Linked DNA regions of Homo sapiens. The protein of the gene in region 1 purifies or fractionates together with the protein of each later gene. This does not show direct contact. Each region holds a gene or a part of one and is shown in the gene's direction. Other genes may lie near its edges.

The links.
Region 2: the proteins of ADIPOR1 (region 1) and DENND10 purify together in Homo sapiens (affinity purification with mass spectrometry; 2 studies listed by BioGRID and IntAct, with this or other methods). This does not show direct contact.

What each region holds. Positions count from the first base shown.
Region 1 is NC_000001.11:202,936,916-202,953,233, reverse strand, and holds the end of ADIPOR1 (adiponectin receptor protein 1), read left to right. Parts: intron 1-2,069; 5' UTR 2,070-2,163; coding exon 2,164-2,304; intron 2,305-4,813; coding exon 4,814-4,930; intron 4,931-6,623; coding exon 6,624-6,795; intron 6,796-8,038; exon of another isoform or gene 8,039-8,064; coding exon 8,065-8,251; intron 8,252-9,288; coding exon 9,289-9,476; intron 9,477-11,015; coding exon 11,016-11,209; intron 11,210-11,532; coding exon 11,533-11,661; 3' UTR 11,662-12,402; downstream 12,403-16,318. UniProt on the Homo sapiens protein: Receptor for ADIPOQ, an essential hormone secreted by adipocytes that regulates glucose and lipid metabolism. Required for normal glucose and fat homeostasis and for maintaining a normal body weight.
Region 2 is NC_000010.11:119,097,795-119,114,112, forward strand, and holds the start of DENND10 (DENN domain-containing protein 10), read left to right. Parts: upstream 1-6,318; 5' UTR 6,319-6,348; coding exon 6,349-6,403; intron 6,404-6,970; exon of another isoform or gene 6,971-7,228; intron 7,229-7,516; exon of another isoform or gene 7,517-7,690; coding exon of another isoform or gene 7,691-7,701; intron 7,702-10,153; coding exon of another isoform or gene 10,154-10,173; coding exon 10,174-10,370; intron 10,371-14,054; coding exon 14,055-14,134; intron 14,135-16,318. UniProt on the Homo sapiens protein: Guanine nucleotide exchange factor (GEF) regulating homeostasis of late endocytic pathway, including endosomal positioning, maturation and secretion, possibly through activating Rab proteins such as RAB27A and RAB27B.

The sequences.
Region 1 (16,318 bases):
CGATATAAAGTATTTTTTAGTAAAGCTGCTGATTCAGTAGTACTTCACTTTGAGGAAATATGTTTTGAGGTCAGCCTATTGAGAAAGATTTCCTTGTGTCCCTCTCACACGGGTTGCCCATCCTCGAGGTTTTCATAGGCTTCCAGCTTCCTGTTCTCCTTAGCTCAATTGTTCACTATGACTGTGTGCTGGCATCTCGTCAGAGTCTTGCACATTTAAAGGAAGAGGAACTGTCTATGTGTTGACACCATATAAAGGTCTGCTGTATAGCAAGTTATTGTTTTTGTCTCTCTTGGACTAGATTGCCGGTTGCTTTCAACTGTGCTTGTGGGTTGAGCATAGCATGACTCATGACTGTTTAGAAGCTTGAGGATTGCCCTTACCTGATGTGTTAGTAAGTGTTCTCCAGAAAGCACCAATAGGATACATACATATGGATAGAGATGGGATTTATTCGGGGAATTGGCTCATGAGATTATGGAGGCTAAGTCCCACACTATGCCATCTCAAGCTAGACAATGAGGAAAGTCCATAACTGGTTCAGTTTAAGGCTGAAGGCCTGAGAACCCAAGGGGCTATTGGTGCACGTCCCGGAATCCCAAGGCAGGAGAACCTGGAGTTTCTGATGTCCAAGGGCAGGAAAAGAAGGGTGTCCCAGCTCCAGGAGGGAAGGAGGGGGAGAGACAGAGAGAGTTAGGGAGTCAGAGAAAGAGATTTATAATCCCTGAGAAGGAATTGTGATTACTCTTAGATAAAAAAGAACTGACACAAGATATCAAAGATATTTGTATATAGTGAATAGCCATGGATGATATAGTGTCTCCCTCAGGAGCAAAGTTATGTTTACTGCCCAATATAAAAGATTGGGGCTCCCTAAGCTTAAGTTTCCTCTCCCGGAATGCAACCCACTCCATGTGCAGTTGTTACCTGGCCCTCCCTGCATTGCAATGTGGTTATTTGGGTTTGGGTGGGGCTTGGGTAACCAATGCAAGAAAATGCTAATATTCTGGCTACTGCTATTGCTATAACTAATAAAGTCCTTTGTATGGGGGTAGAGGTGGGGAGAGAACTAATAATTTACAGCATAGTGGAAATCTTTGGAAACTTTCTCCCTCTTTCCCTCTTTTTTTATTTGCATTTCCCTGAGGCCTGTTTAAAGACTACTGTGAAAATCCAACCCAGGAAAACCTAAAGTGTCTGAGATTTTTCCTAGAAAATGGAATTCTGGGTTTTTCTGATTTTGTGTGTGCCTGTCTCTAGTTTCTGAAATACTCATTTGAGTAGGGCTTAGATTATGGGTTGTGGTGGTTGAAACAAGTTATTGTGGAGCTGGTTATTAGGTATGTGTGTGGCAAAGGGTAAATTGGGGCTGCCTCCTTGTCTTCACCTTCCTGCTTCCAGGTAAGTTCTTGCTTGCTTGCAGGACAGATTGTGATGAAAGCTTGTTATCCCAGGGTTGAACTCAGGCTATAATCCTGTAATAGAATTAGTAGACTTCGCAGAGAAATTAACCACTAGGCATCTGTCCCACAACCAAGTTCCTTTTGTATGTATGACACATTTATCAGAGCATTTGTAGATAAGGTCTAACTGAGTTCAGTTGGCATTTAATTCATTTCTAAGCCTGGATGATCTTGTAGTAATTGCAGCCAGATGTTGGCTTTATATTTTTATTCCTCGGTCTCAGAGCTAGGCCTTTCTTGGGCAGAGTGAGCTTTGGGAGTGATAGATGAGATTCTTCTCACTAAATGGTTCCATACCTGTGGGAGGGAGTTGAGGGTGGGTAGCTGTTTTTCTATGGTGACAGTTTGGTGCAGTAACCATAGATCATATGAAAGCAAGCAACTAGGTGTTACATTTTCAGCCTTACCTATAAGATTAGTGAGGTTCTGGGTAAAGGTTGACATTAAAGAGGGAGGACAGGAATAGATTTCATTTAAGCAATTAACTGGCCTTTAGAATTGGGGACAGGATATGAGTTGATTAGCTTCTTATTCAGTATTAGAGTATAGAAATGAAACTGTAAGAGGAATAAATTGTCAATCCTTCATGTTTGTATTTTCTTTTAGTGTCTACCATCAGAGGGAGATCTCTGCCCCCTGGGGCTGAGAGACCCCAACCTTTCCCCAAGCTGAAGCTGCAGGGTATTGAGGTACCAGCCAGATGTCTTCCCACAAAGGATCTGTGGTGGCACAGGGGAATGGGGCTCCTGCCAGTAACAGGGAAGCTGACACGGTGGAACTGGCTGAACTGGGACCCCTGCTAGAAGAGAAGGGCAAACGGGTAATCGCCAACCCACCCAAAGTAAGTCATCTTCCCAGGAGTCATCCCCTTGTTCAGTTTCTCTCCTTAGAACTCTGTCATTTTCTCTTTTTTAAGAGCTCACCGTCCAAAAGGAGGAACATTGCATCCTGGAAATGTCTCTATCCAAGTCCCTATGATACTGTTATAAACATCTTGTTGTCTGCTTTCCCCATTGTAAGCTTTTGGGAATGCACTCATCTTTGTAACACCAGTGCTTAGCACAAGGCCTGCAGTCCAATAAATAATCAGTAAATATCTGAATGAATGAAGGAAGCAGTCAATTAGGATTAGGTTTGACTTCATATAACACACAAAAATCCTTACAGTTTTGACAGGACAGAAGTCTCTCAAGCAAAAGAATTTCAGAAGTAACCAATCCAGGGCTGATATGGAGGATCCACCACTGTCAGGCACCTGTGTTGCTCTCCCATCACTCTTAATATGTGCCCATCATACCCACATTCTACCCCCCATGAAAGGGAAACGAGAAGAAAGGCCCTCTCTTTCCCTTTTATTTTTATTGAGATAAGATCTCGCCATGTTGCCTAGGCTGATCTTAAACTCCTAGGCTCAAGTGATCCTCCTGCCTCAGCCTCCCAAAGTGTTGGAATTACAGGTATGAGCCACTGTGCCCGGCCAACTCTTTGCCTTTTAAAGGGACTATCAGGGCCGGGCACGGTGGCTCACACCTGTAATCCCAACACTTTGAGAGGCCGAGGCAGGTGGATCACCTGAGATCAGGAGTTCGAGACCAGCCTGGCCAACATAGTGAAGCCCCCTCTCTACTAAAAACACAAAAATTAGCTGGGTGTGGTGGCAGTCGCCTGTAATCCCAGCTACTCGGGAGGCTGAGGCAGGAGAATCGCTTGAATCTGGGAGGCAGAGGTTGCAGTGAGCCGAGATCGTGCCATTGCACTCCAGCCTGGGCAACGAGTGAAACCCCCTCTCAGAAAAAACAAAAATAAATAAAGGGACTATCAGGAAGTACCTCATAAGACTTCGGCCAGAACTTACTTACATAACTATATTCAGCTGCAGTGGAGGTTAGAAAGTGCAGCCTGAGTAAAATTGCAGTAACATTGCCACCCTGAACAAAACCGTGGGCTTTGTTACTTAGGAAGAGAGAGAATGGATGTTAGGGTAGACTGGCTGGAAGCTGTAGCACAAAATCTAAGATGGACCATGTGTTTACTAGTGACCATCAGCAACAGGAGAGAAATAGCCCAGAAAAGGAGTTGAACTGCCAGGCTTTCTATAGCCATGATTCGGAGCCTTGGGATAGAGAGAGAGAAAGTTCTCTCCCTTTCACAGGCAAGTGCTCTCCTGGGTGTGTTTTTTTTTTTTTTTTTTGGAGACAGAGTCTCGCTGTCGCCCTGGCTGGAGTGCAGTGGCACGTTCTCGGCTCACTGCAGGCTCCGCCCTCCAGGGTTCATGCCATTCTCCTGCCTCAGCCTCCCGAGTAGCTGGGACTACAGGTGCCCGCCACCTCGCCCGGCTAATTTTTTGTATTTTTAGTAGAGACAGGGTTTCACCGTGTTAGCCAGGATGGTCTCGATCTCCTGACCTCGTGATCCGCCCGCCTCGGCCTCCCAAAGTGCTGGGATTACAGGCGTGAGCCACCGCGCCCGGCCCTCTGGGTGCGCTTTTTTAGGCCCTGGAGTCAGTACCGCTGTTTTCCATGGAACCAGTTCTGAGGCCCTGGTACTCCTGGGAGCTGCTGTAGATACAAAGTTTCAATCATGACAGCATCCCTAGAGTCAGTGAACAGGGAACTCTGAACAGAATTATTGTTATGGAACTCTCTGAGACTCTGTGTCTTTTTCGTTGTTTTGAAAACGTAGGCTGGGCATGGTGGCTCAGCCTGTAATCCCAGCACTTTGGGAGGCCGAGGCAGGAGGATCACGTGAGGTCAGGAGATTGAGAACAGCCTGGCCAACATGGTGAAACCCCATCTCTACTAAAAATACAAAAATTAGTCAGGCATGGTGGTGGGCGCCTGTAATCCCAGCTACTTGGAGGCCGAGGCATGAGAATTGCTTGAACCCGGGAGGCGGAGGTTGCAGTGAACAGAGATCGCACCACTGTACTCCAGCCTGGGTGACAGAGGGATATTCCATTTCAAAAAAAAAAAAAGAAAGAAAGAAAATGTAATGGCTTAGAAAAGAGAACTCTTTGGGAAACTGAGGAAAGTTAAGAACCACTATCCTAAAGAAAAGGATGTCATTCAGTACCTAGAGCTGGTGTATTCCCCCAATGCTAGTCTCTGTGACAGTCCTTCTTTTACGCACTGCATAGAATGTTCACTCCAGCATTTACGAAGTATTAATAAATTTCTAACTAGTGTTGTAAACTCAGTGTGTATGCTTTTGGAGAAGAGACCACAAGACCCTCTGTAGGAAAGAGGCTGGGCAGAAGGCATTAGGTTTGGGTTTTTCTGGGTCTCTCTGCTCTGGAATAGTACAATTTATGAGATGACTCCCTGGATTGTTGTGGGTTTTTTCCCCCATAGGCTGAAGAAGAGCAAACATGCCCAGTGCCCCAGGAAGAAGAGGAGGAGGTGCGGGTACTGACACTTCCCCTGCAAGCCCACCACGCCATGGAGAAGATGGAAGAGTTTGTGTACAAGGTATGGCCTATGAGCTTCTGTCCTGGAAGGGGAAGGGCAGCAGGCCTGTCTGGGATGTCCCCAGCCAGCAAGCTTGCACTGGGTCGAAGAGCTTTTATTCCTGGGAAGGAGTGGATTTGTTTTTTGGTTAAGATGAGGTAAATCAATGTGAAGACTGGCTAAATTTTTACTGCCTACTCTGTGAGGCATTGTTCAAAATATATTCTTAAAACGGATTCTTTTCTATGCAAGGGGCGCCTTTGGAAGTCATCAAAATATTTCAATATGACAGTAATATGAATGCCTTTGTTAACACATTAAATATACATGAATGATGAGCACTAATGTATTTTATTAAAATTTGTAATTTCTAAGTAATGATGAATAGAAACAGTATTTTGAGATACCTGCAGAACTAATGTGTGAGAGTATCTGATTTCTATTGGTGACAAAGCCACAAGTTCTACTAATACTGTGGTTTGTTGCTTATGCTTATAATTGAGGAAAATGCTCAATTTACTTAGAGGTAAATGGAAATACAATTTTTTCCATCTATTCCCTGGATCCTGTCCATAGTGCATGGATCCTAGATTAAGAACCCCTACTCTAAAAAGATGTGGTAAGAACTTAGAATCTAATTGGGGGAGGGATGAGACATGAGATAGAATCTCCTGGAGAGGGGCAAAGGAGGGATCTGTACGTTTTTTAAAACAACGTTTATAATTTTTTTGTTTTTATTCAGTATATCAATTTTGAAATTTCAAGTAGCCTAAAGGAGGTTGTACCATATATATATATATATTTTTTTGAGACAGAGTTTTGCTCTTGTCTCCCAGCTGCAGTGGCACGATCTCAGCTCACTGCAACCTCTGCCTGCCAGGTTCAAGCACTTCTCCTGCCTCAGCCTCCCGAGTAGCTGGGATTACAGGCATGTGCCACCACGCCTGGCTTATTTTTGTATTTTTAGTAGAGACGGGGTTTCTCCATGTTGGTCAGGCTAGTCTCGAACTCCCAACCTCAGGTGATCCGCCCGCCTCAGCCTCCCAAAGTGCTGGGATTACAGGCGTGAACCACTGCGCCCAGCCTGGTTGGACCATATTTTCTTAAAAGGTTGAGAAACACTTACCTAAAACTTCTCCAGATAAACTAACATGAAACAAAGACAAAGAGATTTTTTGTTTGTTTGTTTTTGTTTTTTTGTTTTTTTTGAATACAGAGTCTTGCTCGGTCGCCCAGGCTGGAGTGCAGTGGTGCAATCTCGGCTCACTGCAACCCCCGCCCGCCAGGTTCAAACCATTCTCCTGCCTCAGCCTCCTGAGTAGCTGGGATTACAGGTGCCCGCCACCATGCCCGGCCAATTTTTTGTGTTTTTAGTAGAGACAGGGTTTCACCATGTTAGTCAGGCAGGTCTTGAACTCCTGACCTCAGGTGATCCACCTGCCTCAGCCTCCCAAAGTGCTAAGATTACAGGCATGAGCCGCTACACTCAGCCAGGATTTTTTTTTTTTTTTTAATGGTCAAAATATGAGTCAGGACTCTGCTAGCCCCATTCATGCTATGTCTTGGATATCCCCCAGTCCAGGCTGGTTCTCCACTATTACCTAGGACCATTCAGAGCCTGACTGACATCTTCTTAGACTAGTTCTCCATCACTGCTTGTCCTTGGGGAAGGTACTATCTAGTGCCCTACCCAGAGAAAGTGTATATGTTCTAGGTCTGGGAGGGACGTTGGAGGGTCATCCCATATGATGTGCTCCCTGACTGGCTAAAGGACAACGACTATCTGCTACATGGTCATAGACCTCCCATGCCCTCCTTTCGGGCTTGCTTCAAGAGCATCTTCCGCATTCATACAGAAACTGGCAACATCTGGACCCATCTGCTTGGTGAGTGATTTGGATGGGGAAAGGTGGAATTTGTTGTCTCCCTAACTGCGAAGGGATTATAGAGCCCAACAAAGTTGTTCAGATCGATTGGCAGCTGGGATTCTACCTTTAAACTACTAATGACTTTAAGCTAATAACCTTGGTTGACCCTTGATCACTGATCTTTAAGACTGAGAGTAAAAGGCCTAGAAACCAAAGAAATTGGGACTAGATATTTTTTTGTGATCCCTGGCAGAACTGTTCTAGGTGGAGACAATTCCTTGTACTTCGTAATTTCCAACTGTAAAAGTAAAATGCCAACATTTCAAAAAATGGTCTTTTTTGTCTGGGTTTCTGTGACCAGTGCCACTTTCTTTGAAACATTGGACTGCAATTACACAGCTAAACCTCATAGCTTTCTGATTTTTTTTTTATTTCAATAGCTCTTGGGTTACAAAGGGGTGGGGGGGGGTTTGGTTACATGGATGAATTATATACTGGTGAATTCTGAGATTTTAATGCACCCATCACCTTAGTAGTGTACATTGTACTCAATATGTAGTTTTTCTGTCTCACACCCCTATCTCCCCCTCCCGCTTCTAAGTCTCCATAGTCCATTATATCATTCTATATGCCTTTGCGTACTCATAGCTTAGCTCCCACTTATAAGTGAGAACATATACAGTATTTGATTTTTCATTCCTAAGTTACTTCACTTAGAATAGTGGCCTTCAGCTTCATCCAGGTTGCTGCAAAAGACATTATTGCATTCCTTTTTATGGCTGAGTAGTATTCCATGGTGTACATACACCACATTTCCTTTATTCACTCATTGGTCAATGGACACTTAGGTTGGTTCCATATCTTTAGAGTTGTGAATTGTGCTACAATAAACATACATGTGCATGTGTCTTTTTCATATGACTGCTTTTCCTTTGGGTAGACACCTGGTAGTGGGATTGGTGGATCAAATAGTAGCTCTACTTTTAGTTCTTTAAGGAATCTCTATACCCTTTTCCATAGAGGTTATACTAGTTTATAATTTACATTCCCACAAGGAGTGTATAAGCATTCCCCTTTTACCATATCCATGCCAACATCTGTTGTTTTTTGACTTTTTAATAATGGCCTTTCTTGCAGAAGTAAGGTGGTATTTCATTGTGCTTTTAATTTGTATTTCCCTGATGATTAGTGATGTTGCCTGTAGCTCTCTGATTCAAAAACATCAACCATCAAAGTGTACACATTCCCTTTTTTCTTACAGGTTTTTTTTATTTTACCCTCCTGCAGGTTTCGTGCTGTTTCTCTTTTTGGGAATCTTGACCATGCTCAGACCAAATATGTACTTCATGGCCCCTCTACAGGAGAAGGTGGTTTTTGGGATGTTCTTTTTGGGTGCAGTGCTCTGCCTCAGCTTCTCCTGGCTCTTTCACACCGTCTATTGTCATTCAGAGAAAGTCTCTCGGACTTTTTCCAAGTGAGTTAAAAGAACACCATAGGAAAATACTGTGCACTGTTGTCACATCTTGAGATCCCAGTGCTTACTGGGTGATAGGAGCTCATATCACTCCTAAAGGTTTCTTGATATGCCAGAGGAAAGGCTCTCTGTTCTGTGGCGATAGTGGGGTGATGAAGCTTTTCTCTTAAACACTTCATGAACAGACTTACTGCATCCTCTTCAACAGATGGAGAGACCAATTGTGGAATATATTTTCTACCTGAAAAGCACTATCTTTTGTGAGGCTTAGAGTGCCAGTGCACTGGCTGCTTTCCAAGACCTTGTACAAGCGTAACTTACTATTAGCCCAAGCCAAAGTAGGGTGTGGTAAATAGTCTATGCTTCATTCTGCTGGTGCTCCTACCCAGCAGTCAAGTAAAGCTTATCTTTGCTGCCCATGCATTGCTGGAAGCTCCAGATGTCCATCATCGTGTGCTTTCTCTCTTGCCCAGCCGTGAGCCTGAGGTTCTATTTGTTTGCTTGTTTTTGTTGTTATTGTTGGTTTTGGTGGCGACAGTGGTGTATTATTTTGTTTTTTCTAACAACACCAGTAAGAAGGTACATTTTCCTCATTTAAAAAGTCAACTAAGATAGAAAAAGCTAGAGTATCCCTTAATACTACTCCCAATTTAAGAATTTTGTTTTTAGAACTCATTCTATCAGAATAGGAGAATTTTCAAAGCCTTTCCTGAGTGTGATGCTGGGAACCAGCTGGATTGTGATGGAATTTCTAAATTCAAGTGTCTACTATGGGAGATACGGCTGTTCACTAGTAAGGGAAAGGGATAGAGTTCTTTGAATGGGGATTCTTAGAGATTTTTCCATCGTAAAATAGAAGTGACCTTGTGGAATTTTAATCCAGAATACAGGATAGATTGTATGGGAGTCTACAATACAGGATAGATTGAGGGAATGGTTAAATCTGGGAGCAGGTGGAGAACAGAAAGAGCTAGTTAAATGAGCCATACAAATTCATTTCCCCCACTGATTTGTTTCATTTTTGTGGTTCTTTTTAGACTGGACTATTCAGGGATTGCTCTTCTAATTATGGGGAGCTTTGTCCCCTGGCTCTATTATTCCTTCTACTGCTCCCCACAGCCACGGCTCATCTACCTCTCCATCGTCTGTGTCCTGGGCATTTCTGCCATCATTGTGGCGCAGTGGGACCGGTTTGCCACTCCTAAGCACCGGCAGACAAGAGCAGGTAGGTCGGAAGATGTACGTACACCTCAGAGGTATTTAGACCTTAGGCCTGATAGGCTCAAACCTATTTGAGCCTTAAGGTTTGCAGCTTGAGAACCCCACCCAAACCCTGATTTGTGTTTCAGAACTTTCAAAACAGCATCAATTTCAAAGCTCAGTTCTCAACCCCCAGTGTCATACTATTTCAGTAGAATGCCAATAGGACAGATCATTACCCAGCTGGTCAATTAACTGCAAGCACAGATGTAGCTACTCTTATACTTGGTTTGTGACAGTTTAAAAATGTAGCAAGCACAGTAATTTTAGTGACCCGAGTCCCAAGCTCAGACCAAGGGATTAAAATTAAAACACTCAGAGGCATTTTACTAAGGGAATGGAATACCTGGTTTGGTGAATGAAAATACCTTGAGCATAAACAGGTAACAAAGTAATAGCTACAAGCATAAACATCTTTGTGTTGTCTCATCTCATCTGGACTCTTATTTTAAGCTTTTATTACTTGCAGCAACACCACCAATTACCACTAGTCTTTAGTCCCTTTACAATTAATATCTGCTATGTTTTAACCTTCAGTTAAAATAATTAAATATTGTCCGGGAGCAGTGGCTCACGCCTGTAATCCCAGCACTTTGGGGGGCCGAGGCAGGCGGATCACTTGAAGTCAGGAGTTTGAGACCAGCCTGGCCGACATGGTAAAACCCTGTTTTTATTTAAAATATAAAAATTAGTCGGCGTTGTGGCAGGTGCCTGTAATTCCAGCTACTTGAGAGGCTGAGGCGGGAGAATCACTTGAACCTGGTCGGGGGCAGAGGTTGTAGTGAGCCAAGATCACGCCACTGCACTCCAGCCTGGGCAACAAAGCAAGACTCTATCTCAAAAAAAAAAAAGAAAGAAAGAAAGAAAAGAAAAAAATAATAATAATTAAATATTTATCAAGCACCAGCCACGTGCCATGCACTGTGCTTAAACAAAGGTATTTACAAAGATGGAGAGGTGGTCCCTGCCCTTCAGTTATGTGTAGTGTAATGATGAGACACATACCCATTCTTCCCTTGCTCTTGCCTTACTTGTGTGTCCCAGCAGCTACAGGATAACTGCTAATCTGGGTATATCTGTCTACTCAGGAGGTCAGAGTTCTGGTTATGTAAGACTTTTATGATCTTAACAGGAAGCCTATCCTATGCTTCTCTGACTTGGGAGGCAACTGAAGCCTTGACATCTAAGTTCTGTACCCAAGTTAGCCATCAGAGAGTCTTGACATACCATTTTTACCTAAATTCCTTAACAGATAATGAAGAATATGAGATCTTTGTTCTTGGTGCTTAAAAGGTAGTAAGCACTTACACAGCTTCTTCCCATTCAGGACATAGAAGAAATATCTGTTGAGTGTTATCCATCTTGTAGCTAAGTTTCCTAAACATGTACTATTCATCCAAAAATAGCTAATTATCATAAACATTGAAATTCCAGAGTAAGACAGCAGTGCCTTCCATGCGGTGGCTGTTTCCTTGTTTGACAGTCTTATGTCTGTTCTGTTCAGGCGTGTTCCTGGGACTTGGCTTGAGTGGCGTCGTGCCCACCATGCACTTTACTATCGCTGAGGGCTTTGTCAAGGCCACCACAGTGGGCCAGATGGGCTGGTTCTTCCTCATGGCTGTGATGTACATCACTGGAGCTGGCCTTTATGCTGCTCGAATTCCTGAGCGCTTCTTTCCTGGAAAATTTGACATATGGGTAAGAAATGAATCTTCCAGCAGGTCCTGTGATGGTGAGTGAACAGCCCAAAGTTAAAGGGCTGAGGAAAAGGTGGTATGAGACTGGGATCATATAGTGTTTGGAGGTACATATATGTGCATTGAAGGTAAATCATCAATATTAACATTTTGGTGTATCTCTGACAAGGACTGTGTTTTTAAAACTTTCTAAATATACCACTTTAATGTTATTAACAAATTTGTTTAATTAAGGATAAACTAGAAGAAGCAAATGCTTTCTCCTACTTGTTTCTTATTCCTCCTTGCATTATCCTAAAGGCTCTTTTCTTTTTATTCCTACAGTTCCAGTCTCATCAGATTTTCCATGTCCTGGTGGTGGCAGCAGCCTTTGTCCACTTCTATGGAGTCTCCAACCTTCAGGAATTCCGTTACGGCCTAGAAGGCGGCTGTACTGATGACACCCTTCTCTGAGCCTTCCCACCTGCGGGGTGGAGGAGGAACTTCCCAAGTGCTTTTAAAAATAACTTCTTTGCTGAAGTGAGAGGAAGAGTCTGAGTTGTCTGTTTCTAGAAGAAACCTCTTAGAGAATTCAGTACCAACCAAGCTTCAGCCCACTTTCACACCCACTGGGCAATAAACTTTCCATTTCCATTCTCCTAGCTGGGGATGGGGCATGGTCAAACTTAGCCATCCCCTCCTCAGCAAGGCATCTACCGGCCCCTCACAGAGACAGTACTTTGAAACTCATGTTGAGATTTTACCCTCTCCTCCAACCATTTTGGGAAAATTATGGACTGGGACTCTTCAGAAATTCTGTCTTTTCTTCTGGAAGAAAATGTCCCTCCCTTACCCCCATCCTTAACTTTGTATCCTGGCTTATAACAGGCCATCCATTTTTGTAGCACACTTTTCAAAAACAATTATATACCCTGGTCCCATCTTTCTAGGGCCTGGATCTGCTTATAGAGCAGGAAGAATAAAGCCACCAACTTTTACCTAGCCCGGCTAATCATGGAAGTGTGTCCAGGCTTCAAGTAACTTGAGTTTTAATTTTTTTTTTTTCTTGGCAGAGTAATGTAAAATTTAAATGGGGAAAGATATTTAATATTTAATACTAAGCTTTAAAAAGAAACCTGCTATCATTGCTATGTATCTTGATGCAAAGACTATGATGTTAATAAAAGAAAGTACAGAAGACACTTGGCATTCAAAGATTTCACATGTATGGTCTTGATTATTTGCACACAACTCCAAAACATTAAGTAAGACCTGTGATAATTTCAGATTCTCCTGAGGCACAAATTTGAATCATAGGCATTGACAGGCTGGCACATGCAGGCCAATAAATGGACCTAATTGAATTCCTAGCATCCATTCCCCAATACAGCTTTACTTTTTTATGTAATTGTTGCATGGATTATCTTTTTACATTTTTAAATTTTTTTTTTTCATAGAGCCATTTGAAAAGAACAGACCATCTTGTTAGAGAAATCAGTATGCTATAGTAGTGTTCAATAATTAGGAGATTCTCAGGGCTGGGTGCAGTGGCTCACGCCTGTAATCCCAACGCTTTGGGAGTCTGAGGCGGGTGGATTGCTTGAGGCCAGGAGTTTGAGACCAGCCTGGCCAACATGGTGAAACCCCCATCTCTACTAAAAATACAAAAATTAGCCTCGTGGTGGTGGGCGCCTATAATCCCAGCTACTCGGGAGGGTAAGGCACGAGAATCACTTGAACCCGGGAGGTGGAGGTTGCAGTGAGCTGGGATCACACCACTGCACTCTGGCCTGGGCAACAGAGCAAGACTGTCTCAAAAAATAATAGACTGGATGCAGTGGCTCACGCCTTTAATCCAAGCACTTTGGGAGGCTGAGGTGGGTGGATTATGAGGTCAGGAGTTCAAGACCAGCCTGGCCAAGATGGTGAAACCCCATCTCTACTAAAAATACAAAAATTAGCCGGGCATGGTGGCGGGCAGGTATAATCCCAGCTACTTGTTGCTTGAACCCAGTAGGTGGACGTTGCAGTGAGCCAAGATCATGCTGCTGCATTCCAGCCTGGGAGACAGAGCGATACTCCACCTCAAAAAAAAAAAAAAAAAAGTATAGTAATAATAATTAGAAGATTATCAAAAGTGTTGGAATACATCCCAAAGTTTAGGGATATATCCCATGTTGCCTAAGGTTGTCTCATCCAGGGGTCATTCCATGCTTTTCGGTGCTATTGTGAATTGTACTCAACCTGACATGAGTTCTGTTCATTATATAGCGCAAGATATCAGTAATCACTTCTCAGCTAATGCAGGCAGTTTAAGGGCAGTCTTTTTGAGTTAAAGTTGGGTTCATGTCAAGAGTCAAGTTTCTACAATGGAAGAACAAATTATCCTTTTAAAAAAATAATCCACCTACACCAACAGGAAAAGTTTCTCTGCCTCAAGTAACCAAGGAAATGTAAATTAAAACCAAAATGATAATCTGTCTTACTCCAACCAGACTGAAACCAAATTAGAAGCCTAATATTGAGTGTTGGTGCAGATGTAGAGCAGACCAGATGCTGCTGGTGGAAGTATACATTGCAGGACCACTTTACATGGACACACAAAGAGTGTATACATGTTGACAACATTCAAACATTTCGTGAAATGACACTATACAATATGAAATGCATCTGATATCTAACCTAGGTTACTTCACTTAAAAACAGTGCTGGCTGACCCACTAAATTGTTCTCATGACTCAGTAATGGGTCGCTACTCACGCTTTCAAACACACCGCTCTTGGAAAAACCTGGCTTGTACCAAAGGGTTCATTGCAGCTGTTTGTAGTAGCAAAATGTTGCAAACAAGCCAAATGTCCCAAACTGTTGAATGGAAAACTATATCTTGGTGTATTCATATAACGAAACACTGCTGGTGAAAATGAATTACAGTGACAAGCAACAACATGGTTGAGCCTCAGAAATAAGATCGGCAGGAAGGGAGGGAAGCAACAGAATACATTTGCATAATTGCATGTATGTAAAATTAAGAAAATTGCTAAATTAATGATAGGTTTAAGGATACAAACATGGTAAAAACTTTAAAGAGGGAATGTTAATTTAGAATAATGTTTACCTCTGAAGGACTAAGAATCTTTAAAGTTTGTTATTTTAAGTTAGGTGGTGAGCACCTACGTGATCCTTTTGCCTAAGATCATGTGATACTCACTGCCTTTATGCAATGAGTGTTTTATATGTTTAATCCAAAACCATTTTAAGTCTTAAAAAATGCTTAAGGAACTGTTGGCAGAAGTCACAAACTGATGACCTGTACATCAAAAACATCCGTAGACATGTTTGGCCTTGCACAGTGAGAGCAATCAACTGCTACTCAAAAGCAGCTATGTATGTCCTTTATAGAAGGCTGGTGCACTCCAGTTCATCATGGTCCCTACCTAGGGTGATGGTCTCAGTGCAGTCATCTGCTGGCCTCTGCAGGCATCTCGGTTTGCAGCCGCTAGTATAAGAAATGGAAGGAAACCTAGGGATCATATCTGATCCAACTCCATTTTCTAGATAAGGAAATGAGATCCACAGCTGTTGAGAAGGCCTAGTGTGTGGGGGAGGATTGCTTGAGTCCAGGAGTTGGAGGCTGCAGTGAGCTATGATCACACCACTGCACTCCAGTCTGGGTGACAGAGCAAGAGCCTATCTCTTAAAAAAATAAAATAAAATAAAAAACAACCTAATGTGTGTTTCTTCATTTCTCCGTACTAGACAAGATCAGGGAAAGATGATCTAAGAGATAACATTATTGGGCACCTATTTGGTACTTTTGGTATGTCATTTTATATCGTTGACTCTGTGGAATACATAGTAAATGTAGTTAGAAAATAAGTTAGTCTTTCCCCTAGTTCTTCATTCACTAATAGGAAAGGGATAGAATCAGATTCTCAGTTTTCATTCTTGGCCTCCTTTTTTTTTTTTTTTTTTTTTTTTCTTTTTTAATTGAGACAGAATCTCACTCTGTTGCCCAGGCTGGAGTGCCATGGAGCAATCTCGGCTCACTGCAACCTCCGCCTCTGGGGTTCAAGCGATTCTCCTGCCTCAGCCTCCCAAGTAGCTGGGATTACAGGCACATGCCACCATGCCCAGCTAATTTTTGTATTTTTAGTAGAGATGGGGTTTCACCATGTTGGCCAGGGCTCGTCTTGAAGTCCTGACCTCAAGTGATCTGCCCGCCTCGGCCTTTCTTTAATCACAGTTCATCAGTGTTTGTCATTTACTTATTCCATAGTGCCTAGCACCTAACAGATTTGAGGACCACACTGGATTTCAGCTGCTATGAATCTGCTTATTGCCTCATCTAGAAAATGGATGGAGTTACATCAGGTGTGATCTCTAGGTTTCCTTCCAGTTCAATACTAGTGGCTGCAAATTCAGATCCCTCCAGGAAACTAATAATTTTTCCTAAGGTGATGGACAGGTTTGGAGCCAGTATCTGAATCCAGGTCATTCTCATTTAAAGCTCGTGTTCTAAAGACTCAGATCACTTAAAAATTCCTTTTGCTCATGTTTTCAATATCTTCCCTTGCTTTTGTCAGAACTGCTAACTAGCAGCAAGTAACTATTACCTTCTTTCTCTAATTGCATACTTCTGGTTCATTCACTTACTTTCTAAATACTTGAGGACCTGTTATGTGCTAGGCATTACAGAACAAATGACAAAAACACTGATGAGCTTGGATTAAAGAAAGGCAAAGCATAAAAGCTAAGAATCTGATTTTACCCCTTTTCCTATCAGTAAATCAAAAAATAGGGGAGAGCCTAACTTATCTCTATAAGCCATCCATTTTCTTTTAAAAAAATATTTTCACAAAGGGCTAATATCCAGAATCTACAACGAACTCAAATGAATTTACAAGAAAAAAACAAACAACCCCATCAAAAAGTGGGCGAAGGATATGAACAGACACTTCTCAAAAGAAGACATTTATGCAGCCAAAAAACACATGAAAAAATGCTCACCATCACTGGCCATCAGAGAAATGCAAATCAAAACCACAATGAGATACCATCTCACACCAGTTAGAATGGCGATCATTAAAAAGTCAGGAAACAACAGGTGCTGGAGAGGATGTGGAGAAATTGG
Region 2 (16,318 bases), on another chromosome or scaffold:
AGATGTTAATGATAGAGAAAATCAGGTGCAGTATATGGTAACTCTCAATACTATCTTTGCAACTTTTCTGAAAATCTAAAGCTATTTGAAATGTTTATTTTATTTTTTTATTTATTATTTATATATATATATTTTGGAGATAGAATCTCGCTCTGTCACCCAGGCTGGAGTGTAGTGGCACAATCTCGGCTTACTGCAACCTCCACTTCCCAGGTTCAAGCGATTCTACTGACTCAGCCTCTCAAGTAGCTGGGATTATAGGTGTACGCTGCCATGCCCGGCTAATTTTTTGTATTTTAGTAGAGACGGGGTTTCACCGTGTTGCCCAGGCTGGTCTTGAACTCCTGAGCTCAGGCAATCCACCCGCCTCAGCCTCCCAAAGTGCTGGGATTACAGGTGTGAGCCACCGTGCCTGGCCTAGGCCTATTATTATTATTATTTTTTTTGAGGTAGAGTTTCACTCTTGTTGCCGAGGCTGGAGTGCAATGGTGTGATCTCGGCTCATTGCAACTTCTGCCTCCTGGGTTCAAGGGATTCTCCTGTCTCAGCTTCCCAAGTCGCTGGGATTATAGGCACCTGCCACCACACCTAGCTAATTTTTGTATTTTTAGTAGAGATGGGGTTTTACCATGTTGGCCAGGCTGGTCTCGAACTCCTGACCTCAGGTGACCTGCCTGCCTTGGCCTCCCAAAGTGCTGGAATTACAGGCATGAGCCACCACCCCTAGCCTAAAAGTTTTATTTTTAAAAATCTGAGGGGAAAGGGATTTTAAGACATTTCACTGTAGGTAATAAATTCTGTCCTCTTTAATGTTTTTTGGAAAACGCAAAGAAAGATCAGAATTATTTTAATTACATTTTTCTTGCTGAACTATGTATTATTCTTTTTTTTAGAGACTGGTTTTTTTAGAGACTGGGTTTTGCTCTGTCACACAGGCTGGAGTGCAGTGGCTCAATTGTAGCTCATGGCAACCAGTGACTCTTGGACTCAAGTGATCCTCCCACCTCAGCCTCCTGAGTAGATAGGTTCAGGTGTGTATCTCCAAGCCCACCTAATTTTTAAATTTTTGTTCTAGAGACAGGGTCTTGCTATGTTGCCCAGGCTGCTCTTGAACTCCTGGGCTCGATGCTTTTGCCTCAGCTTCCCAAAATGCTGGGACTACAGGAATGAGCCTCGGTGCCCAGTCCATGAACTATTTCTTTTAATGCAACATAGTAGCCAGGTGTGATGGCTCACACCTGTAAGCCCAGCACTTTGGGAGGCTGAGGTGGGAGGATGTCTTAAGGCCAGGAGTTCAAAACCAGCCTGGGCAACATAGTGAGACTCCCATCTCTACAAAAATAAAATAAAAATAAAAATAAAAATTAGCCGGGCATCGTGGCTCATGCCTATAGTCCCAGCTACTCTGGAGGCTGATGCAGGAGGATTGCCTGAGCCTAGGAGTTCAAGGCCATACTGGGCAACATAAGGAGACCCCATCTCTACAAAAAGTTTTAAAAAATTGCTGGGCATGGTGGCACAAACCTATGGTCCCAGCTACTCGGGAGGCTGAGGTGGGAGAATTGCTTGAGCCTGGAAGGTCAAGTCTGCAGCAAGCTGTGATTGAACGACTGCACCCCAGCTTGGGTGACAGAGCAAGACCCTGTCTCAATAGATAAATGAATAAATAAATAGAAAGAAAGAAAGAAAAAAGAATAATGCAACACAGCTCGAAACCTGGGCTTCTTAGGGCCGGAGAGCTACCCAGCATCCTGAAACCATTGAGAACACAAGGAGGATGACTTCATCTTGGGAATGTTCTGGAAGCCTCACATATGCTAGAAGTCAGGACGGAGTGTCAGAGCAGTTGACTGAATCGCCTTCCAGTTCCCAAGTGAGACTGAATCCCTTAAATTAAAAGAGCTTGGCCAGGCGTGGTGGATCACACCTGTAATCCCAGCACTTTGGGAGGCCAAGGCGGATGGATCACTTGAGGCCAAGAGTTTCAGACTAGCCTGGCCAACATGGTGAAACCCCATCTCTACTAAAAATAAAAAAAAATTAACCAGGCTTGGTGGCACACACCTGTAGTCCCAGCTACTTGGGAGGCTGAGGCAGGAGAATTGCTTGAGCCTGGGAGGCGGAGGTTGCAGTTAGTGGAGATCACACCACTGCACTCCAGCCTGGGTGACAGAGCAAGACTCCGTCTCAGAAAAAAAAAAAGGCTGGGCACAGTAGCTCACACCTGTAATCCCAGCACTTTGGGAGGCTGAGGTGGGTGGATCACCTGAGGTCAGGAGTTCGAGACCAGTCTGACCAATATGGTGAAACCCTGTCTCTACTAAAAATACAAAAATTAGCCGGGTGTGGTGGCCTGCGCCTGTAGTCCCAGCTACTCAGGAGGCTGAGACAGGAGAATTGCTTGAACCCAGGAGGCGGAAGTTGCAGTGAGCTGAGATTGCATCACTGCATTGCGACAGAGCAAGACTCCATCAAAACAAACAAACAAACAAAACAACAACAACAAAAAAAAACTGCCACCCTAATGGCTCCCTTGGCTGACACATGCCCAATCTATGATGGAATCCAATTACAGAAACAAAGATGAAAAAGAACCATATTTGACTCATAGGAACCTGGGATTGGAACACCTGGAAGATGCTGGGGTCCCTTGTGCACTTGTCCATGTGGCCAGACAGTTTAGGCACTTTCCAAATCTGCTTCAGTGCCAGTAACTTACTCTTTTTCTGCAGAGCAAGGAGTGAGCAGGCTGTGCAAAAAAGAATTCACACGACAGGCCTGAGGGTGATATCCATAGAAAGTCTGCTGGCCAGTTTGGCCCTTGGCTGTGCCTGGAAACTTGGACTTCGGCAGTGTTCCCAGCATTTCTAGAACTGATCAAACTGATCAGAGTGACAGACTATGCCTGAACTATTTGTACATACAATGTGGTTCATGAGAGTCTGGAAATCTGGTATGAGCTAGGCAGAGGGTACCTATGTGACTGGCCCCCAGTAAAAACTGAGTTACTTGGTGACTGAGTTCTAACAAGCTTCCCTGGTTGATAAATATCACAAGTATTGCCACAACTTGTTGCTGGAGGAATTAGGTGTGTCCTGTGTGACTCTACCAGGAAATAACTCTTGGGAACTTGGCCCTGGTTTCCTCCAGACATCACCCCATGTGCCTTTTCCCTTTGCTGATTTTGCTTTGTATTCTCTGGCTGTAATAAATCATAGCCCTGAGCTGGGGATGGTGGTTCACATGTGTAACCCCAGCACTTTGGAGCCTGAGGTGGGCAGATCGCTTGAGGTCAGAAGCTTGAGATCAGCCTACACAATATGGTGAGATCACATCTCAAAAAAAAAAAAAAAAAAATAGCTAGGCATGGTGGTGCCTGCCTGTAGTCCCAGCTACTCAGGAGGATGAGGTGGGAGGATAGCTTGAGCCTGGATCAAAGCTGCAGTGAGCCGTGATCGTGCCACTGCACTCCAGCCTGGGTGACAGAGTGAGACCCTGTCTCAAAAAAATAAAAATGTATATCATAGCCATGAGTATAGCTATATGCTGAATCCTGAGAATCCTTCCAACAAATCATTGAATTTGGGGGGTGGTCTTGGGGACCCTTTATATTCTTACCTATAAAATTAGGCTATTCTTATCAATAAAACTAGCATAAAGATTTTCCCTGATTCAAATCTTTATTGGGAGAGTCACGGAGGAAAGTATGGTTAGCTCCATTTGATCACTGAGAAAACATGCACAGAAAAGATAGGAAACATGTGTGAGGTTTCGCAGCTAAGATGGGCAAGGGGGTTGGAACTCAGGTTGTCTGTTTCCACACCCCAGCTCCATCTGTCTGTGACAGCGCAGAGGTCAGTCTTACTTTTAAAGATTGGGGATGCGTCGCCTCTGCTCTCTCCACCCTCTATTCCTTTTCCCTTCACTCTGGTGTACCTGTCTGGCAGGTAAGACAGCACTTGTGGAGAAACAGGAGGGAAGGAGGTGTCAATTCCAGGTATCATCCCACTCACTGGAGCCTGGACACACCCCTCATTATCTTTCCCCTCCCTGCACCCACTATCATCTCCCTCTCCTTTGTTTAATTATCTGTTCATCATCGTCTTCATCCTCATTTCTTTTCTTTTTTTTTCTGAGATGGAGTCTCACTCTGTCGCCCAGGCTGGAATGCAGTGGCGCGATCTTGGCTCACTGCAACCGTCCTCTCTTGGGTTCAAGCCAGTCTGCCTCAGCTTCCTGAGTAGCTGGGATTACAGGCACCTGCCACCATGCCTAGCTAATTTTTGTGATTTTTTGTTTGTTTGTTTTTGAGATGGAGTCTCGCTCTGTCGCCCAGGCTGGAGTGCAGTGGCGTGATCTCGGCTCACTGCAAGCTCCGCCTCCCGGGTTCACGCCATTCTCCTGCCTCAGCCTCACAAGTAGCTGGGACTACAGGCACCTGCCACCACGCCCGGCTAATTTTTTGTATTTTTAGTAGAGACAGGGTTTCACCGTTTTAGCCGGGTTGGTCTCAATCTCCTGACCTCGTGATCCACCCACCTCAGCCTCCCAAAGTGCTAGGATTACAGGCGTGAGCCACCGTGCCCCACCTAGTGCAAGTTTCTAGTTGGCTTCCAAACTGATTCCACATCTGTGTCCCACTCCTCAGCCTCTAAACACCTGCTTCTTTTCTGTGAAAACTAGACACATTAACAGTTATACTACAACAGGAAGCCCAGAGAATAGAAGGGCACGTAGTTCAGGGTGCTGCCTTCCAGGGGTTCAGTTTAGTGAGAGAAACAGGAATGCCATATACACACCTAAATATACTCCAATGTATAAATTGCAGCCTGGGCAACATAGCGAGAAACTGTCTCCAAAAAAAAAAGAAAGAAAAAAGAAAAAAACAGGCGCAGTGGCTCACGCCTGTAATCCCAGCTACGCAGGAGGCTGAGGCAGGAGAATCCCTTAAAACCGAGAGGCGGAGGTTGCAGTGAGCCGAGATCGCGCTATTGCACTCCAGGCCGGGCAACTGAACAAGACTCCATCTCAAAAAAAAAAAAAAAAAAAGAAAAAAGAAAAAAAGATGAGGGTGGGATTGTATTCCTGCAGACACCAAGGACCCTCCCTAATTAGCTCTGTGTGACTTGGGGTTGGGGCAGACAGTAGATCCAGAGGAGGAATCTTGGAGCCAAATCTTCCAATGTCTGAGTCGTTACTATCATTCAGATCTCAGTTCAAATATCCCTTTCTCAGAGAAGCCTTTCTTGACACCCATTTTAGAGCAGCACACCTCCACTCTCTAACACACTGCCTCCAGGGCACATATCGTTGCCTCCAGGGCACATATCATTCTGAGCTTTTTTACTATTATCTATCTATCTGTCATCTATTTATCTATTTATTTATTTTTGAGACAGGGTCTCACTCTGTCACCCAGGCTGGAGTGAGTGGCAGGATCACAGCTCACTGCAGCCTCAAAATCCTGGGCTCAAATGATTTTCCTGCCTCAGCCTGAGAGTAGCTGGGACTACAGGTGCATGCCACTATGCCTGGCTAATTTTTAAATTTTTTTTGTAGAGATGGGTCTCACTATGTTGCCAAGGCTGATCTCGAACTCCTGACCTCAAGTGATGCTCCTGCCTTGGCCTCCCATCGTGTTGGGATCAGAGGCGTGAGCCACCTCACCTGGCCTGGATTATTTATTCTACTCGCCAATTGTCTGTCTTCCCCAGTGGACTGCTCTGTCTTGTTCAGCCCTATAAGGTATCCCCAGTGCCTTATTAGGCCCTCAATTTTTGTTTTGTTTTGTTTTGGGGGTGGCTGGATGAAGGAATGGATGGAGACCCTTCCTCCATCCTCAGGACGCCTCTTTTTAGGAACAAGGTGACCTGTTCTTTTGAGCTTGACCAGAGGGCAGAGGTAGAACAAGGAAAGCCTACGACGGGAAGAAAGATTGGAGTGGATTGAGAAGAAGAAGGATGAACAGCTGGATTAGAGAAATTGAGGCAGGCTGCGGAGACTCAAGGAGGTTTCCAAGGGCGAAGGGCCACGGGCAGAAGACGAGTGGAGCTGCACTGAGCAGGTCCTGGCAGGGAGGACTGGGGCTGGAATAGGTGGGCCTGCGGGTGGGGCGGGGCCGACGGGGGGGGTTGATGGTCCTGTGATGGGGCGGGGCGGGAGGGAGGCGGGTCCTACAGCGGGAGGCGGGGCCTGTGATGGTCCGGGGAGGGAGGCGGGGCTTATGATGGGCCGGGGAGGGAGGCGGGGCCTGTGATGGGGGCGGGCCCTACGGCGGGCGGGGCGGGGTTCGGGTGCGAGGCCGGTCCTGCAGGCGGCAGCCAGAGCTGCGCGCCGCGGCGGCGGAAGATGGCTGCGGCCGAGGTGGCGGACACTCAGCTGATGCTTGGAGTCGGGCTGATCGGTGAGGACGTAGGCGCCCTGCCTGGAAGCCCGCACCCTGGTTCTGCCTCTGCTCCACCTCGGCCCGGGGCAGCCCGGGCTCCCGCGGCCCCCGGCGCCGACCGCATGAGGAGGGCGCGGCCCCCTCCCTGTTGGGCCTGGACTGGGGACTGCGGAGCCCGGCCTCCTTGGTGCAGGGGACCCGGCCCGCCGCCCTCGCCCGCCCGCCCGCGGCCGCCTGTGGGGCCTGCCCGGCCCGAGGGAGCCCGGGGACCTCCAAGATTCCGGGGTGGAGCTCCCCCTGCACGCCCCGGGTTGCCCGGCGGAGCCGGGACGTCGAGCGCTCCCAGGCTGGGCAGCTGCGAGGGGCGCTGCGCGGGCGGGGCCGGGCCGGGCGGGAGCAGCCGGCTGGCGGCGCGGCGCGGCGCGGCGGGGAGGAGGCAGGGTCCGGTTCCCCCGAGCCGGGGGCGGGCGGCTGCCTCGGAGCCACGGGTGACTGCCCGCCCGGGCGGCCCCCATCGTGGGACCGGGCAGCTGGAGACTGCTGGGCCGGGTGCTGCGCGTTGTACACACATTGTCTCCTTTTAGCTCTCACCAAGGACCGAGGGGCCGTGGGAAACGTCTGACGCCCACTTCACGGAGGAGCAAATGGAGGCCCAGGCCGTCATTGTGCACGGACACACCATAGGCCGTACAGAGCCGGGAGTGGGACCCTCGCAGTGTATCCCAGAGCCCCCAACCCCCACCAGTGGAGAGCTCCTGCATCATGTGATCGAGCTTGTGCATAAATAAAGCAGGAGTTTCTACACAATCCTGTGTGGTGGAATCTCGGTTAGCTCTGAGGAATGTAATTATCTTCCATAATTAAAAAATATCACACGGGGATCTTTGGGCAGCCTCGTGCAGTATTTAGGGGATGGAACCCGTTGGTTCCCTTCGAAAAAGTTTTATTTTCCCGAGATTTTTGCACACCCCTAAACTCTTTCTATTCCCCAAGTGCGCAATAACATTGCTTAGGCTTTAGCAAAACTGAAGAAATATGCTGATTATTTTTCAGTGCCTCAAAGCAGTGCGTTTATGTGGGAATCGCTTACTGTTTTTATTTCTTTGTCTTTCTTCTTTTTTTTTTTTTTAGACGGGGTCTCCCTCTTATCCAGGCTGGAGTGCAGTAGCGCAATCATCGCTCTCTGCAGCCTCCACCTCCCAGGCCCAAACCATCCTCCCGCCTCGGCCTCCGAGTAGCTGGGACCTCAGGCGTGCACCACCACCCGATTAATTTTTGTATTTTTTGTGGAGATGGGATACCGACATGTTGTCCAGGTGGATTACTGTATTTATTTCTAATGTGATTTTCAAACTGCTTCAAAACAAAACCTAAGTAACTTAGTTTCTCCAGAAGGTACTTTTGAACTAAGGCTAAGTTAAACTGTCTTTATCTACTAATAGCAAATAAAAAGATGACATATGATCATATTTTGAACTCAGCAGTTTTTTAATTATTCACACTAACGTGCATTTAAAAGGGGTTTGCAGCCAGCCTGGGCAATGTGGTAAAACCCTCGTGTCTCTACAAAAAATACAAAAATTAGCCGGGTGTGGTGTGCCTGTAGGTGGGAGGATTGCTTGGTCCCAGGAGGCAGAGGTTGCAGTGAACTGAGATCATGCCACTGTACTCCAGCATGGGTGACAGAGTGAGACCCCCCCCAACCCCGTCTCAAAAAAAGAAATTGAAAAAAGAGGCCAGGCGTGGTGGCTCATGCCTGTAATCCTAGCACTTTGGGAGGCTGAGGCAGGTGGATCAATTGAGGCTGGGAGTTGATCAGCCTGGCCAATATAGCGAGACCCTGTCTTCACTAAAAAGGCAAAAAATTAACTGGGCGTGGTGGTGCACACCTGTAATCTCAGCTACTTAGGAGGCTGAGGCAGGAGAATCACTTGAACCCGGGAGGTGGAAGTTGCAGTGAGCTGAGATCAGAGGTGGAGGTTGCAGTGAGCTGAGATTGCGCCACCGCACTGCAGCCCAAGTGACAGAGTTAGACCCTGTCTCAGAGAGAGAAAAAAAAACAGAATGTGAGTGTCTTTTTTAGTATAATGATTTCTTTTCCTTTCGGCAGATACCCAGTAATGGGATTACTGGGTGGAATGGTAATTCTGTTTTCAATAACAATTTTTTATTTGTAGTCTTTAGAGACAGGGTCTCTCTCTGTTGACTAGGCTGGAATGCAGTGGTGCATAGCTCACGACAACCTCTGAATCTTGGGCTAACTTGATCCTCCCACCTTAGCTTCCTGAGTAGCTGGGACCATAGGCACACACCACCATGTCCAGCTAATTAAAATTTTTTTTTTGTAGAGATGCGGTCTCACTATGTGGCCCAGGTTGGTCTGGAACTTCTGGCCTCAGGCGATCCTCCTGGGTTCCCAAAGTGTTAGGATTATAGGCATGAGCCATTATGCTTGGCCTAAACAATTTTAAATACAAAATTCACACAGTTGGTATGCAACATGGTTTGAAATATTTCACTATTTTCTTCATCTCTGGTTTTGTTTTCGACAAACCTTTTCTATGTATTTATTAAAAATTATTCGGCTGGGCACGGTGGCTCACGCCTATAATCCCAGCACTTTGGGGGGCCGAGGCAGGCAGATCATCTGAGGTGGGGAGTTCGAGACCAGCCTGACCAATGTGGAGAAACCAAAACCCCATCTTTACTAAAAATACAAAATTAGCCAGGAGTGGTGGTGCATGCCTGTAACCCCAGCCACTCGGGAGGCTGAAGCAGGAGAATAGCTTGAATCTGGGAGATGGAGGTTGTGGTGAGCTGAGATCACTGCATTGCACTCCAGCCTGGGCAATAAGAGCAAAACTCCATTTAAAGAATTATTCCGCCCAGCACTTTGGGAGGCCGAGGCGGGCAGATCACCTGAGGTCAGGAGTTCAAGACCAGCCTGGCTAACATGGCGAAACCCTGTCTCTACTAAAACTACAAAAATTAGCTGGGCATGGTGGTGGGCACCTGTAATCCCAGCTACTTGGGAGGCCAAGGCAGAAGAATCGTTTGAACCTGGGAGCCAAGATAGCACCAGTACACTCTAGCCTGGGTGACGGTGAGACTCCGCCTCAAAAAAAAAAAAAAGAATTATTCCAACTAGTTAAAAACTTAATGTAATTTTAGTTGATAAGCATTTGTGTGGGAGGAGATAGGGAGAAACTCTAACATCTTTCTTTGTCTTTTTTTTTTTTTTTGAGACCAAGTTTTGCTCTGTTGCCCAGGCTAGAGTGCAGTGGCGTGATCTTGGCTGACTGCAACCTCTGCCTCCCGGGTTCAAGCAATTCTCTTGCCTTAGCCTCCTGAGTAGCTGGGATTACAGGCATGCCCCACCACACCCGGATAATTTTTGTATTATTAGTAGAGATGGGGTTTCTCCAGGTTGGTCAGGCTGGTCTCGAAGTCCCGACCTCAGGTAATCCACTCGCCTTGGCCTCCCAAAGTGATGGGATTACAAGCATGAGCCATCGTGCCCGGCCAAAACTCTACCATATCTCTAAGGCTGAATTTTCATTCATGGTTTGTTATAAAAACTTTTTACTCAGGTGGCCTGTAATTCAGGATCATGACAGCTAGATAATTTGAGCAGTAGAGATAGGTGGGAATTTGGGGTGTCAGGTATTGTGAGTTGCTTTGTAAGATGGGATGTTAAAACTGATTCCACTAAGTGTTTCTGAGTAACCAATCAATTCACTTCCTTGCTGCTGTTTGACATTCTCACAGTGACCATCTTTCCACCGTAGAAAAGGACACAAATGGAGAAGTTCTGTGGGTGTGGTGTTATCCTTCCACGACAGCCACATTAAGGAACCTGCTGCTGAGAAAATGCTGCCTTACAGATGAAAACAAACTTCTCCATCCCTTTGTCTTTGGTCAGTACAGAAGAACATGGTTTTATATCACAACAATTGAAGTTCCAGATTCTTCCATTTTGAAAAAGGTATGATTGCGTGAAGGTAAAAAAAAAACCCCAAAATAGGCTGGGCGCGGTGGCTCATGCCTGTAATCCCAGCACTTTGGGAGGCTGAGGTCGGCAGATCACAAGGTCAAGAGATTCAGACCATCCTGGCCAGCAAGGTGAAACCCCATCTCTACTAAAAACACAAAAATTAGCTGGGCGTGGTGGCGCACGCCTGTAGTCCCAGCTACTCAGGAGGCTGAGGCAGGAGAATCGCTTGAACCTGGGAGGCGGAGGTTGCGGTGAGCCAAGATTGTGCCACTGCACTCCAGCCTGGCGACAGAGCGAGACTCCGTCTCAAAAAAAAAAAAAAAAAGAAAAGAAAATATTAAATATTATTTTCATTGGGAATACTCTGTTTCACACTTCACTCTCATTCATTCTATAAATATTTATTGTTGTCTATTATATGACAGACCCTGTAGTTGATACAGTGGTGAGCAGTACAGCAATATGTGGTCTTTTCCCCTTTTTTTTTGTTTTTGTTTTTTTGAGATGGAGTTTTTCTGTTGGTCAGGCTGGAGTGCAATGGCGCAATCTCGGCTCACTGCAACCTCCGCCTCCCGGGTTCAAGCGATTCACCTGCTTCAGCCTCCCGAGTAGCTGGGATTGCAGGCACCCACCATCACGCCTGGCTAATTTTTTGTATTTTTAGTAGAGACAGGTTTTACCATGTTTGCCAGGCTGGTCGTGAATTCCTGACCTCAGGTGATGCACCCGGCCAGGATAAATTAAGAATTTAGAAAGGCAGGCCGAGCGTGTTGGCTCACGCCAGTAATCCCAGCATTTTGGGAGGCTGAGGCAGGCGCATCACCTGAGGTTGTGAGTTCAAGACCAGCCTGACCAACATGGAGAAACCGCATCTCTACTAAAAATACAAAAAATTAGCCGGGCGTGGTGGCGCATGCCTGTAATCCCAGCTACTCGGGAGGCTGCGGCAGGAGAATCTCTTGAACCCGGGAGGCAGAGGTTGTGGTGAGCTGTGATTGCGCCATTGCACTCTAGCCTAGGCAACAAGAGCGAAACTCCGTCTCAAAAAAAAAAAAAAAAGAATTTAGAAAGGATATTTAAGGCAGCTTGTGTATTAAGTAGACTTTTCTTGGTGTGTTGTTTGATATGAACAGTATCAGTGTGACATGTGGAAGACTAGGATGTAATCGTGGACTTTCCTAATCCCAAGCAACCAGCAGGTTTTTTCAAAGAATAGAATATTGGAACAATACTTTATCTGAGCCTCTGGCATGTACCCAAACAGAGATTTTTTCCCGTTTTAGGGCTAATTTATAGCCAATAGTGCGACTATGTGAAGCATGACTAGAATACCAGCTTAAATTTTAAAAATTACATTTAAAATAGCAGGAAGGTAACAATTTAGAAACTGTAGAAGGTTTAAGACAAAACAGATTCATAGTTACAAAATATAAATTTGCAAGAAGATACTTTTTTTTTTTTTTTACGGGAGTTTTGCTCTTGTTGCCCGGGCTGGATTGCAGTAGCATGATCTCGGCTCACTGCAACCTCCATCTCCCAGATTCAAGCGATTCTCCTGCCTCAGCGTCCTGAGTAGCTGGGATTACAGGCATTCGCCACCACGTCCAGCTAATTTTCTTTTTTTTTTTTTAACTTCAATTTTTAATTTTTATTTTTTGAGTCAGAGTCTCATTTTGTCACCCAGGCTGGAGTGCAATGGTGCAATCATGTCTTACTGCAGCCTTAATCTCCTGGGCCCAAGTGATCCTCCCTCCTCAGCTCCCTGAGTAGCTGGGAGCACATGTGTGCACTACCATGCCCAGCTAGTTTTTAAATTTTTTGTAGAGATGAGGTCTCACTCTGTTGCCCAGGCTGGTCTTGAACTCCTGAGTTCAAGCGATCCTCCTGTCTTTTCTCCTAAAGTTCTGGGATTAACAGGCGCGAGCCACCGCACCTGGCCAAAAAGATAGGTTTCAATATGTAATGAAATCTTTGGTTTATTGCTCAATAAGTTCTTTTTGTTTTTGTTTTTTTTTTGAGATGGAGTCTTGCTCTGTCACCCAGGTTGGAGTGCAGTGGTGTGATCTCGGCTCACTGCAACCTCTGCCTCCCAGGATCAAGCGATTCTTGTGCCTCAGCCTCCCAAGTAGCTGGGACTACAGGCATGCACCACCACCTACTCTTCATTTTAAATGTATCTCTTCAAAGTTTTGTATTTATGAAATTCTGAATTTTGTCTCATTAGTGGAAATATTAGGTATATGTTTATCAGAAATTTATAATATAGAGGCATATAAGTAAATGAAGGTTTTTTTCTTTTTTTGAGACAAAGTCTCACTCTGTCGCCCAGCCTGGAGTGCAGGGACAAAATCTCGGCTCACTGCAACCTCTGCCTCCTGGGTTCAAGCAATTCCCTGCCTCAGCCTCCCGAGTAGCTGGGATTATAGGCACCTGCCACCATTCCTGGCTAATTTTTGTAGTTTTAGTTGAGACAGGGTTTCACCATCTTGGCCAGGCTGGTCTTGAACTCCTGACCTTGTGATCCACCTGCCTCGGCCTCCCAAAGTGCTGGGATTACAGATGTGAGCCATCATGCCCAGCCAAAACTTCTTATAATAGTACTTTTTAGCTTATGGCACCCTGCAGAGAGTTAGTTCAGGAGCTGTATGGTTGTTACTGAGATGTATTTTGTTGTTTTTCATCCTTTTATAACGAAGAACAATTGCTATTCGACAGAGCTGTAGTGTGACTATGATTAAGAATAATCTATTAATTTCAAAATAGTTAGAATAATTTGAATGTTTTCAGCATAAAGAAAAGATAAATAGTCTGGGTGCGGTGGCTGATGCCTGTAATCCCAGCACTTTGGGAGCTGAGGTGGGTGGATCATTTGAGGCCAGGAGTTCGAGACCAGCCTGGCCAACAGAGTGAAACACTGTCTCTACTGAAAATACAAAAAATTAGCTGGGCATGGTGGTGTGCCTATAATCCCAGCTACTTGGGAGCTTGGGAGGCTGAGGCATGAGAATTGCTTGAACCCGGGAGGCAGAGGTTACAGTGAGCTGAGATTACACCACTGCACTCCAGCCTGGGCGACAGAGCAAATGTCCCAAAAAAAAAAAAAAAAAAAACTGGAAAAATATATACATCTATTATGTATCAATAAAAATAAGTAAAATAAGGGTTTGGTGGTAGTGCCTGTAATCCCAGCTACTTAAGAGGCTGAGGCTGGAGGATCTCTTGAGCCCAGGAGTTCAAGTCCAGCCTAGGCAACATAGTGAGACCCCAACTCAAAAAAAAAAATAGGTAAAATAAAATAGTAAAAAAGTGTGGAGGAGAAAAGATAAGCAGTTGCTAAATTGGTGAGTCTGATTTAGCACTTCTTTCTTGTACTTTGATGAGATTAGGGGACATTAAGTAGAAATGTACTTTTTTTATATTTGAGTGAAGTATTTTTGATTTCTGAAAATTTTTTCTCTAAATATTGCATTCTTATGTAGGAAATTCAATATATATGTATATGTAATACATATGCACATGCAGAAGTATAAAGAAGCAAGTGAGGACTTGTTAAATTTTGGTCTTTTTCTTTTAATACTGTTGTGTCTTATACAAAAGGTTTGTTAGAATATAGTAATAAAAATTCTGCTAAAGTGTATTTAAAAAGTGTATTTTTTTGTTGTTTCTTTTGAACAGGTGACTCATTTTTCTATTGTCCTGACCGCCAAAGATTTTAACCCAGAGAAGTATGCTGCCTTCACTAGGATATTGTGTAGGTCTGTATAAAAATTGTATTAAATGCTAATATACAAAATGAAGACCTTAGTATAGTTACATAGCAGATTTCTACACTGAGAAAGCAAAGTTCAGCCTTGTGTCTCCCCAGCATAATCTTTAGTAGCCCTTCACAGACTGTAAAGACGGCCTTTCTCTTTTGCTCTGTTGATACTTCTCTTATTTGGGTAAATGATCTAGGGGAAGAGAAGGAGCAGTTTTATAGCTATTGTAGCTCCTGGGTGTTTTGAATCACTTCCTACTTTTGATCTGTTACTTCTGTTCACTTCCAGTCTAGAATTCCCTTAGTAGGTTGGATAAGTTAAGGGCCTTATGACATGGTAAACTGGTTCGTATGTGTCAAGGTCTGTGTGTACAGTCATTTTGGGGAAAGAATTATGCCGAAGCACAATAACACATTTCTTAGCTGGAATGCTGAGAAGCTAGGGAATTCTGATTAACTGGTTAGTCACGATTCAGCTAGACTCTTTTAGTTTCATCTCCATTGTTGAAAAATTTATCTAAAATATACCAGTCTATTTTCTTTTCTTTTTCTTTTTCTTTTTCTTTTTTTTTTTTTTTTTGAGACAGGGTCTCACTCTGTTGCTCAGACTGGAGTGCAGCGGCTTCATCATGGCTCACTGCAGTCTTGACCTCCCAGGACTCAGGTGATCCTCCCACCTCAGCCTCCCATGTAGCAAGGACTGCAGGTGCGCACTTCCATGCCTAGCCAATTTTTTATATTTTTTGTAGAGACAGGGTTTCACCATGTTGCCCAGGCTGGTTTCAAACTCCTGAGCTCAAGTGATCTGCTCATGTTGGCCTCCCAAAGTGCTGGGATTATAGGCGTGATGAAACTCTTTTTTTATGTGTTAAAGATATTAGCTCTTTCTTAATGATGAAGGCTTTTGCAGAGTTTTATTTATTATGTTTTTTTTTTTGAGACAGAGTCTCCCTTTGTTGCCCAAGCTGGAGTGCAGTGGGGCGATCTTGGCTCACTGCAACCTCTGCCTCCTGGGTTCAAGCGATTCTCTTGCCTCAGCCTCCCGAGTAACTGAGATTACAGGTGGGTGCCACCACGCCCAGCTAATTTTTTGTATTTTTAGTAGAGAGGGGGTTTTGTCATGTTGGCCAGGCTGGTCTTGAACTCCTGACCTCAAGTGATCCGCCCGCCTTGGCCTCCCAAAGTGCTGGGATTATAGGCGTGAGCCACCGCACCCTGCCTTGCAGGGTTTTAGTCGTGATTTTTTTTTTTTTTTTCTGGTTGTTGTCTTTTTTTTAGCGACACGGTCTTGCTCTTTTGCCTAGCTTGGAGTGCAGTGGCATGATCATAGCTCACTGTAACCTTGAACTCCTGGGCTGAAGCAGTCCTCTCACCTCAGCCTCCCAAGTAGTTAGGACTACAGGTGTGTGCCACTGCTCCTGGCTAATTAAAAAATATATATATATTTTGTAGAAAGGTGGTCTTACTATGTTGCCCAGGCTGGTCTTGAACTCCTGGGGTCAAGTGATCCTCTGCCTTGGCTTTTCAAAGCGCTGAGATTACAAACGTGAGCCACTGCACCTAGCCCTTTAAAAAAAAAAATGTTGTTACTAGATAGAATTATAATTCTAGGTGTCATGTTACCGTCAGGCTTTTCCCTAATACAGAGATTTTTGGGGGCACTGAGGGTGAAGGGAATTGTTTTTGTTTTATAAGCCTAATAAATGGTAGGCTTTTGGCTATTTTTGTGCGTGAATGTATATACACACACCAAAAGAAGCAAAAAAAAAAAAAGAGAAAAACTCTATCATAAGACTATCTTCTCATTACCTAAGGGTTTCAGTTAGATTATATCTTGGCTAAATGAGATTTCACCATTTTTGCAACCAGCCAGAATAAAAAAGCTTCCTACTCTCATAAGAACCAGGTGAATGTCTCACTGTGGATAAACAGTTGTCTGCTAATGTGGCACTTACACAAAGGGAGATTATTATTGCCAGAAAAGACGCTATCCAGAAGCCATAAACTAAAAACACTACAGAGGTATTTTTGAACAAACATTGGACTCCCATTTCATTTGGTTGAGTCAGGGTTATGTTGCTCAACTGAATTCACTGGGAAATATTCTGGAGTCCAAAAGGCAAGGTTGCTTCAGACCCCACTTCCTGCCCAGAAGGAGGCCCAGAGGGTTTCTCAGCTTGTG